Linked DNA regions of Homo sapiens. The protein of the gene in region 2 purifies or fractionates together with the protein of the main gene of each other region. This does not show direct contact. Each region holds a gene or a part of one and is shown on either strand. Other genes may lie near its edges.

What was found. Proteins that work in one complex are often made in the same cells at the same time.
Region 1: the proteins of MCEE (region 2) and DBT purify together in Homo sapiens (co-immunoprecipitation; 2 studies listed by BioGRID and IntAct, with this or other methods). This does not show direct contact.

What each region holds. Positions count from the first base shown.
Region 1 is NC_000001.11:100,242,978-100,246,963, reverse strand, and holds part of DBT (lipoamide acyltransferase component of branched-chain alpha-keto acid dehydrogenase complex, mitochondrial isoform 1 precursor), read left to right. Parts: intron 1-2,361; exon of another isoform or gene 2,362-2,421; intron 2,422-3,986. UniProt on the Homo sapiens protein: The branched-chain alpha-keto dehydrogenase complex catalyzes the overall conversion of alpha-keto acids to acyl-CoA and CO(2).
Region 2 is NC_000002.12:71,119,112-71,124,515, reverse strand, and holds part of MCEE (methylmalonyl-CoA epimerase, mitochondrial precursor), read left to right. Parts: coding exon 1-310; intron 311-5,404. UniProt on the Homo sapiens protein: Methylmalonyl-CoA epimerase involved in propionyl-CoA metabolism.

The DNA of each region.
Region 1 (3,986 bases), on a different chromosome or scaffold from region 2:
TTAAAGACTCTTGCCTTACTCCACTGTGGCCTTATCTGCAACATACCTCATCCCCGGGGTTACACCTACTCATCCGTCAGGTCTTACTTCAACATAACTTTCTCCAGCTAGGTTCCCTTAACACACTCTATTTCCTTCATTATAGCACGTGTTATAATCACCGGTTTACTTGTCTTTACCTTTCACTGTACTGTGCATTCTATAAGGGAAGAAATTGCATCTGTTTTGTTCTCTGTATAATCCCAAGTGCCTGGCACATTGTAGGTGTGCATAAATATTTTTTAAATGACTCAGTAAAAAAAAAAGTCAGGTTTGTAAACTCTTCTAAAAAGTTGTAAGCAAAAACAGTTCTTACCCCCGTAGTAAATTATTAAAATAGCCTTATAATGTTGTGTTTTACATTTCCCTAGGACATAATGCATTTGACTCTTGATTAATCATGCCATTTGGAATTTTTCTGTTGTGTCTGTCTTCCTGTAGTAAAGTGTAAGCAATTTGAATTCAGGAACTATATATTGCATCTTATTTAGCTTTGCATTTCCAAGTCCAGTACAATGTCTGACTTTAGGAGTGCTCAACAGCTGCCTATTGAATTATTATTAAATATTTCCTTAATACGCTACTTTGGTGAACAGTTTCATTTCCCTTTATGTTCTTCTGTCCTGGTTGTGATATTGAATTATTAATTTTTTATTTTTATTTTTTTTGAGACGGCGTCTCACTCTGTCACCAGGCTGGAGTGCAGTGGTGCAATCTCAGCTCACTGCAACCTCCGCCTCCCGGGTTCAAGCGATTCTCCTGCCTCAGCCTCCCAAGTAACTGGGCAGGCACGCGCCACCATGCCCAGCTAATTTTTGTATTTTTAATAGAGACGGGGTTTCGCTGTGTTGGCCAGGATGGTCTTGATCTCTTGACCTCGTGATCCACCTGCCTCAGTCTCCCAAAGTGCTGGGATTACAGGCATGAGCCACTGCACCTGGCCTAATTTTTTATTTTATTTATTATTATTTTTGAGACAAGTTCTTGCTCTGTTGCCCAGGCTGGAGTGTGGTGGCATGATCTTGGCTCACTGCAGTCTTGACCTCCTGGGCTCAAGTGGTCCTCCTTCCTCAGCCTCCCAAGTAGCTGGGACTACAGGCATTCACCACCACAGCCAACTAATTATTTTGATTTTTAGTAGACAAAGTCTCAATGCATTGCCCAGTATGGTCTTGAACTCCTGGGCTCCAGTGATCCTTCTGCTTTGGACTCCCAAAATGTTGGGATTACAGGCATGAGTCACTGCACCTGGCTGAATTATTTTTAAAATCAAGGAAAGACCTATTTTAGTCAAATAATTGCATTAAGACTTAGACTACACGTATAGTTGTTCAACCAGGATGTATTTGAGAATGAAAATGGTGTTATTAATAATTGCCTTGAATCACTAGAGGTGAATTGGGTGTCACCTCAGGCAAATTGGTACAGATGGTCCCCATAGAACTAGGTGTCTTTAGTATTGTTCATAGATGAATTTAGAATTGCTTCAAATATAAAATATATAAAACTGATAATTCCATAAGCATGCCTTTTTAAAATTGGAGGTTTAAAGCCTTATGCTTAATTTACTAGTCTAGCTGGGTGTGGTGGCTCACACCTGTAATCCTAGCATTCTGGGAGACTGAGACAGGAGGATTGCTTCAGCCCAGGAGTTTAAGACCATCCTGGGCAAAAAAGTGAGACCCTGTCTTTATTTTATTATTATTATTATTATTTGAGATGGGATTACAGGTGTGAGCCACTGCACCCAGCCAACCCTGTCTTTGAAGAAAATTAAAAAATATAATTTACTAGTCTAATAGTCTGTTTCTAGAAAAAAAATTTAGAATTCTAGCTTGAAAAATTATTTCTTCTCCTCTTTCCTGTTGCCTGTTAATCCATCTATTCAGCAACTTCACAGTGTTTTTAGCCTTCTCCTCAGAGCCATTCAATTACTATTATATTAATCATATACTGCCTATGGTACTTTTGTTGCTTTTTTTCTTTTTCTACTATTAATTACCTCAGTCAGGAGCCTGTTGCTTTGTGTCTCAAATACTATACAGTACTCTCCCCTTCTTATCTGTGGTCTCAGTTAGCCATGATCTACTGTAGTCTGAAAATAGGTGAGCACAGTACAGTAAGATATTTTGAGAGAGAGACCACATTCACAAAACCTTTATTACAGTATATTATTATAATTTTTCTATTTTATTATCAGTTATTATTATTACTGTCTTACTGTGTCTGATTTATAAATTAAACTTTATCATAGGTATGTATATATAGGAAAAACACGGTATATGTAGAATATGTAGGATTCAGTACTGTCCATGGTTTTAGGCACCCACCGGGGGATCTTGAACGTGTCCACTGCACATAAGGAGATAAGAGAGGAATACGGTAATAGTTATTTTTTTAAAAAAATCCTTTTTTGATAATTTTGGTATGTAATAGTTTCTTGACTTCTCCCTTTCTCTCCAGATTTTATCTGTTATAATCTATTCAATAAACCACTACTAATTTCCTAATCCTTTTTCTTCAATAACCCATAATGTATGAGTTCAAACTCCTTATACTGACATTATAGTCATCAACCATTTCCTCCTTGAGCTGTTTCCATTGCTCTCTTTTATACCTTTGGTCAAGCCAAATCAAGCCGCTCAATGTCCCAGCAGATATGCTAAGTCAATTTCTGCTGTAGTTTATTTATGCTGTTTCCTCTGCCTTAAAAGTGCCCTTCTGCTCTTTTATTATGTATGCTTATTATGCACAGTGCAGCTTAAATCTTCCTCCAAGAAGCCTTCCCAGGTCACACTAACGTGAAAAAAAAGCCCACCAGACCCCTCTACTTAAACTCCTTTTTTTTTTTTTTTTTTTTTGAGATAGAATTTTGCTCTTGTTGCCTAGGCTGGAGTGCAATGAGATTACAGCTATGAACCACTGTGCCCGGCCTGCTTAAACTCCTTTATCACGTACTGCCTATGTCTCTTTTTTTTTTTTTTCGTAAACCTATGGACTATATTAAAGAAGCCTATGCCTCTTATTACAAAAAGTTAGAGCATGCATGTCCATGCTTGAGTGTGTTTGTATGTGTGTTTATTTTCTCACATACGTTGTAAACTCTTTGAAATTAGGGATTATTTCTCCTATTTCTAGGGTCTTTGACATCAAATTTATTTAGCTTCAGAGCTCGATTGTTCCACTTATTTGCTGTGTGACCTTGGACAAATTACTTCACCTTTCCCATCAGTTTCCCGTGTGTTGAAGAGGGCTAACGTGTATGTTCCACAGGGAAATTGTAAATGTAAAGATGATGTCTGGGCCGGGCACCATGGCTCATGGCCTGTAATCCTAGTACTTTGAGAGGCCAAGGTGGGCGGATTGCCTGAGCTGAGGAGGTCGAGAGCACCCTGGGCAACATAATGAAACCCCGTCTCTACTAAAATACACACAAAAAAAGTTTAGCTGGACATGATGGCACATGCCTGTAGTCCCAGCTACTTGGGAGGCTGAGGCACGAGAATCGCATGAACCTGGGAGGCGGAGGTTGCAGTAAGCTGAGATCGTGCCACTGCACTCCAGCCTGGGTGACAGAGTGAAACTCCATCTCAAAAAAAAAAGAAAAAAAGATGATGTCTAAAAAGGCTATTTTTCTTTTTTTCTTTCTTTTTTTTTTTTTTTTGGAGACAAGGTCTCTCTGTCACCTAGGCTGAAGTGCAGTGGTGTGATCTTGGCTCATTGCAACCTCCGCCTCCCAGGTTCAAGTGATTCTTGTGCCTCAGCCTCCCAAGTAGCTGGGACTACGTGTGCCACCATGTCCAGCTGATTTTTGTATTTTTAGTAGAGAGGGGGTCTCGTCATGTTGACCAGGCTGGTCTCAAACTCTTGACCTCAAGCAATCCACTCACCTCAGCCTCCCAAAGTGATGGGATTACAGGCCAGAGCCACCATGCCTGGCCTGTCTG
Region 2 (5,404 bases):
TCCAACAGTAAGAGCTTCTTCCACATCACAGCCCTTGGATCAAGTGACAGGTTCTGTGTGGAACCTGGGTCGACTCAACCATGTAGCCATAGCAGTGCCAGATTTGGAAAAGGCTGCAGCATTTTATAAGAATATTCTGGGGGCCCAGGTAAGTGAAGCGGTCCCTCTTCCTGAACATGGAGTATCTGTTGTTTTTGTCAACCTGGGAAATACCAAGATGGAACTGCTTCATCCATTGGGACGTGACAGTCCAATTGCAGGTTTTCTGCAGAAAAACAAGGCTGGAGGAATGCATCACATCTGCATCGAGGTATTTTAATTATTTTAATGCCTGGTATTTTAAATCTCTCTTTTAAAAAATGTCTTCTACTTTTTAAGTCTATTTATGGTCACTGTCATTAGAAACTTTTGTAAAGTTCTTTAAGGAGAATGATAATATTCATCCTCCTCAAAGGTGGATCCTTACATACATTTCTTTTCCCTTTAGAAAATTCTAACATATAATATTAATGTATTTTTTTGAAGTCTGGATTCAGTGACCACTGTAAGTGCCACCAAAGTTAGCCACAATGTAGAGTCTGCTTTAGAATTGATCATGTTTGACCTCCCATGTAACAGGAATACAGCTGTTTTCACTGTCATAAGGCAATTAGGAGAAACAAATGAAAAGACTTTAAAGCTTTCAGTGTACATGCTAAGTATTCTTTATAACTCTTTTCTCTCTTTAAAATGCTAATAACTTCTTCGTTATTACAAAGTCAATACATTTTCAATTACTGTAATTTTTAAGATCTTCTGAATTGCACCTGCCAACAATTTTTAAAGGAATGTGAAGAAATGTTAGACAAGAAAAGTCCATTAGAGAACATTTCTATAGATGTTCATGTTCAGATAACTGCCTTTTAGAATATCAGCAATGACAATTATGCATCGATTTAATTTGCTAGGACAATTCTTTTTATAGAAAGAATGACATAATTGTTAAGCCAAATTTCTTTTTCTTTTCTTTTTTTTTTTTTTTTTGAGACGGAGTCTTACTCTGTCGCCCAGGCTGAAGTGCAGTGTGGCGTGATCTCGGCTCACTGCAACCTCTGCCTCCTGGGTTCAAGTGATTCTCCTGCCTCAGCCTACCAGGTAGCTGGGATTACAGGCATGCGCCACCATGCCCGGCTAATTGTGTATTTTTAGTAGAGATGAGGTTTCACCATGTTGGTCAGGCTGGTCTCAAACTCCTGACCTCAGGTGATTCACCTACGTCAGCCTCTCAAAGTGCTGGGATTATAGGCGTGAGCCACCTTGCCTGGCCTGTTAGGCCAAATTTCTAATACAGAGGAGAGGTCATTTGATTCTAGAGTGAATTCAAGGATGTATTCAGTTCATTATTGCAAACATGTATGAGACCCTATAATGTGTATTCTGCCAAGTACTTGGGATTTAGCAGTGAATAAGACATGAGTCATGTCCATAGTGAGGAGGGTCAGAAATTTAAACACCCAAGTGCAATATACTATGATAAGTAGAATTGATATATGTGACTTTGCAGTAGCACAGATGAAGGAGATTGATTGCTCCTGGCAGATTGAGTTGCTGGGAAGGCCTCACAGAGCATAAGTTACAATGAATGTGAAGGAATTCCCTAGGTGAACAAAAGGAGAAAGTTATTTCAGGCAGAGGGAATTGCATGTGGAAAGGCATAGAGTTATCATAACAGCTAACACTTAGTGGCTGGGTGTGGTGGCTTATGCCTCGACATGGCTTGGCTGTGTCCCCACCCAAATCTCATCTTGAATTCCCACATGTTGTGGGAGGGACCAGTGGGAGGTAATTGAATCATGGGGGCAGGTCTTTCCGTGCTGTTCTTGTGATAGTGAATAAGTTTCACAAGATCTGACAGTTTTATAAGGGGGATTTTCCCTGCCCAATCTGTCTCTCTTTGCCTGCTGCCATCCATGTAAGATGTGACTTGCTCCTCCTTGCCTTCTGCCATGAGTGTGAGGCCTCCCCAGCCACGTGGAACTGTAAATCATTAAACCTGTTTCTTTTGTAAATTGCCCAGTCTCGGGTATGTCTTTATCAATAGCGTGAAAATGGACTAATACACACCTGTAATCTTAGCACTTTGGGAGGCCAAGGTGGGCAGATTGCTCGAGCCCAGGAGTTTGAGACCAGCCTGGGCCAAATGGCAAAACCGTGTCTCTACTAAAAATACAAAAAGCTAGTCAGGTGTGGTGGTATGCACCTGTAGTCCCAGCTACTTGGGAGGCTGATGTGGGAGCATCACTTGAGCCCAGGAAGTGCTGAGGTGGAGGTTGTAGTGAGCCGTGATCACACCACTGCACTCTAGCCTGAATGAAAGAGCGAGACCCTGTCTCAAAAAAAAGAACTAACATTTAGTGAGTCCTCTAGTAGTATGTCTACAAAGTAACTCAACACATACTATTTTCTTGAATTTTCATAGCTACCCTGTGAGGGCCCTATTATCCCCATTTGACAGGAAAGGAAACTGAGACAGAGTAGTTAATTTGCCCATGGTCATATCAATAGCAGGTATGGGGCTGAATCCCAGATTGGTTCTGATTCCAGGGTCTGCACTCTTACCCATGATGCCAGTTGCCTTCATTATATTAACTGAGTTTTAAATTTGCGGTGGGGAAGCTATAAGACCTTAAGCAGGGAACTAAACAAGTCCTAATATTAGCCTTTATTTTATTTTTAGGGAGTTACTTTTGGCTGCAGGTCTTTGTCAGTGGACCTGAGTGTTTGTCTAAGCCCTACCCCACCCCCCAGGATGAGAAGCAGGACCTTTGAATCCACTCCCCCCTCTCCCACACTGCACTATCAGTATTCCATCAAGAGAGCCCATGCTTTCAAAGGAGTTCAGCTATGTGATTTAGTTCAGTTAAGTAAGGAATAGTGGAAGTTCAGTAATGGCAGATTCAAAAGCAGAGATTATAAGGGGGACATGCAAATGTATTGGATATAAAATGAAGGTAGGTAAGAGGAGAAGGTGTGAACAGTGGTTAGTTAGGTGCTATTTTAGTATAATACCCCCATCATCATTCTCTGCCCTCCACAAAAAAATTAAGTGGCTTAACAAGATTTTATTTTTCTGTTTTCAGTCTAATATTAGCTATCCCAGGCTGATGGGCAGCTCTGCTGTCCATGACACATGACTTACAAGGTTGCTCCAGGCATCACCATTTGCCAGCCAGAGGGAAGGGAAGGGAAGGTGGAGTGGGAATACCTGGCAAGTGGCTTTAAGGAGATGCTCTAGGATCACTTCTGTCCTTATCCCATTGGCCCAAGCTTAGTTACATGACACACTTCTCTGCAAGGGAGGCTGGGGAATGTAGTCTCTAGCTAGGCAGTTATGTGCCCTGCTGAAGCTTGGGGGTTGCTGTAATTAAAAGGAGGAAAAGGAGAAAGGTACTGGAGGCCATCAATGGATGCCACGCTTGGTGATTTTTAAAAAGTGGTGTGTCACCTGGGCATGGTGGCTCATGCTTATTACAGCACTTTGGGAGGCCGAGGTGGGCAGATTGCCTGAGCTCAGGAGTTTGAGACCAGCCTGGGCAACACGGTGAAACCCCATCTCTACTAAAATACAAAAATTAGCTGGACGTGGCGGCGCACACCTGTAATTCCAGCTACTTGGGAGGCTGAGGCAGGAGAATCGTTTGAACCTGGGAGGCAGAGGTTGCAGTGAGCCAAGATCATGCCACTTCACTCCAGCCTGGGCAACAGAGCAAGACTCCATCTCAGGAAAAAAAAAAAAAATGTTGAACCACTCATCAGAGAATTGGCTTTCCCCTCTGTAATCACAGGGCTACTTTCTGTCCTTTTTCACCAGGATCTTATAAAACCTCTGACTTAGCATATATCTGTTGGTGCATGCTCCATGGTTTTTGTTGACTCACTTGACGAAATGTTCCTTTCTCACATGTGGATTACGATCTCAATAGTTAATTAGCATTTTTCTGTCGAGGTTGAGTTGGTTTCTACTTTTTCTTGTGAGGTTTACTCATATTTCTTGTGTGTCTTTGCCTCTCACTAGAGGAATTTTAGAGGGCATCTTGTCCCATCTCTTCTCTTGCTCAAGTATGGACTGAATCACCCACTGTTTTCTGGCACAGCTTGTGTTTGTGCTCCTAACTGCTGCCTGCGATGGCAAGAGGGGGGTCACCTTCCCTGCCTTCTGCGTGCCTCTGCTTGAGGAGACAAAGCTGGCCGTGCTTTCTCTGGAGAACTTAGCCAGACAGCACAGTGTGTCACAGTGAAGACTTTAAGGGCCACCAGAAATACTTACTCAAATTTGTATTGAGTTTGTAAAAATATTTAAATGCTTCCGTGTTGGTTGGTAAACAGCTGCTGCTCTGTAACACCTGAGTAACATTCCTTTTCCAGAAGGACCCTTTTCTGGGACCCTTCAGACACCCTTCTCCCTCTACAATTTTTTTCCTTCAGAGAGAGGGTCTCACTGTGTCACCCATGCTGGAGTGCAGTGGCACAATCATTACGCACTGCAACCTGGAACTCCTGAGCTCAAGCGACCCTCCTACCTCAGCCTCCTGAGTAGCTACGGCTACAGGCAGCACACCATCATGCCCAGCTAATTTTTTTTTTTTTAAGAGACAAATTCTTGCTATATTGCCCAGGCTGGTCTCAAACTCTTGGCTCAAGCAATCCTTCTACCTCAGCCCTTCCAAAGCACTGGGATTACAGGCATGAACCACCATGCTCAGCCGCACAATTCTATCTGATTAGTATCTTTGTATTTTCCTGATTGTTAAGTATTTTTGGTATCACTCTGTCCTTCACTGTACAAGATGCTGGGGATATGTGGCTGAACAAGCAGAAAGTTCCTGTCTACCCAGAGCTTGCCTGCTTGCTTCATTTATTCACACATGCTCCTCATTTTCCAGAGAGGATTAAAGGTGACTGACTAAAACACAGCCTACAAAGTACAAAAGGATAAACAGAAGTAATAGTGCTAGTTGCAACAAAGAGGAAATATAAGGGATGATTAGCATACCTTACTAGTTTAGCCAAATACAGTCCCACACCGCATAACAATGTTTCAGTCAGTGATGAGTCCACATGAGGTCCCATAAGGTTATACACTGTATTTTTATTGTACTTTGTCTGTGTTGAAATGTGTTTAGACACCATTGTGTTACACTTGCCTACAGTTTTCAGTAACATGCTGTACAGGTTTGTAGCCAAGGAGGAATAGACTGTACCCTGTAGCCTAGGTGTGTAGTAGGCGCCACCATCCAGGTGTGGTGATGTTCGCACAACAATGAAATTGCCTAGTGATGCATTTCTCAGGACTCGTACCCATCAAGTGACACATGACTGTATTTCTTTCTACTTACCAAAAACAAAAAAGGAAATAAACAGTATT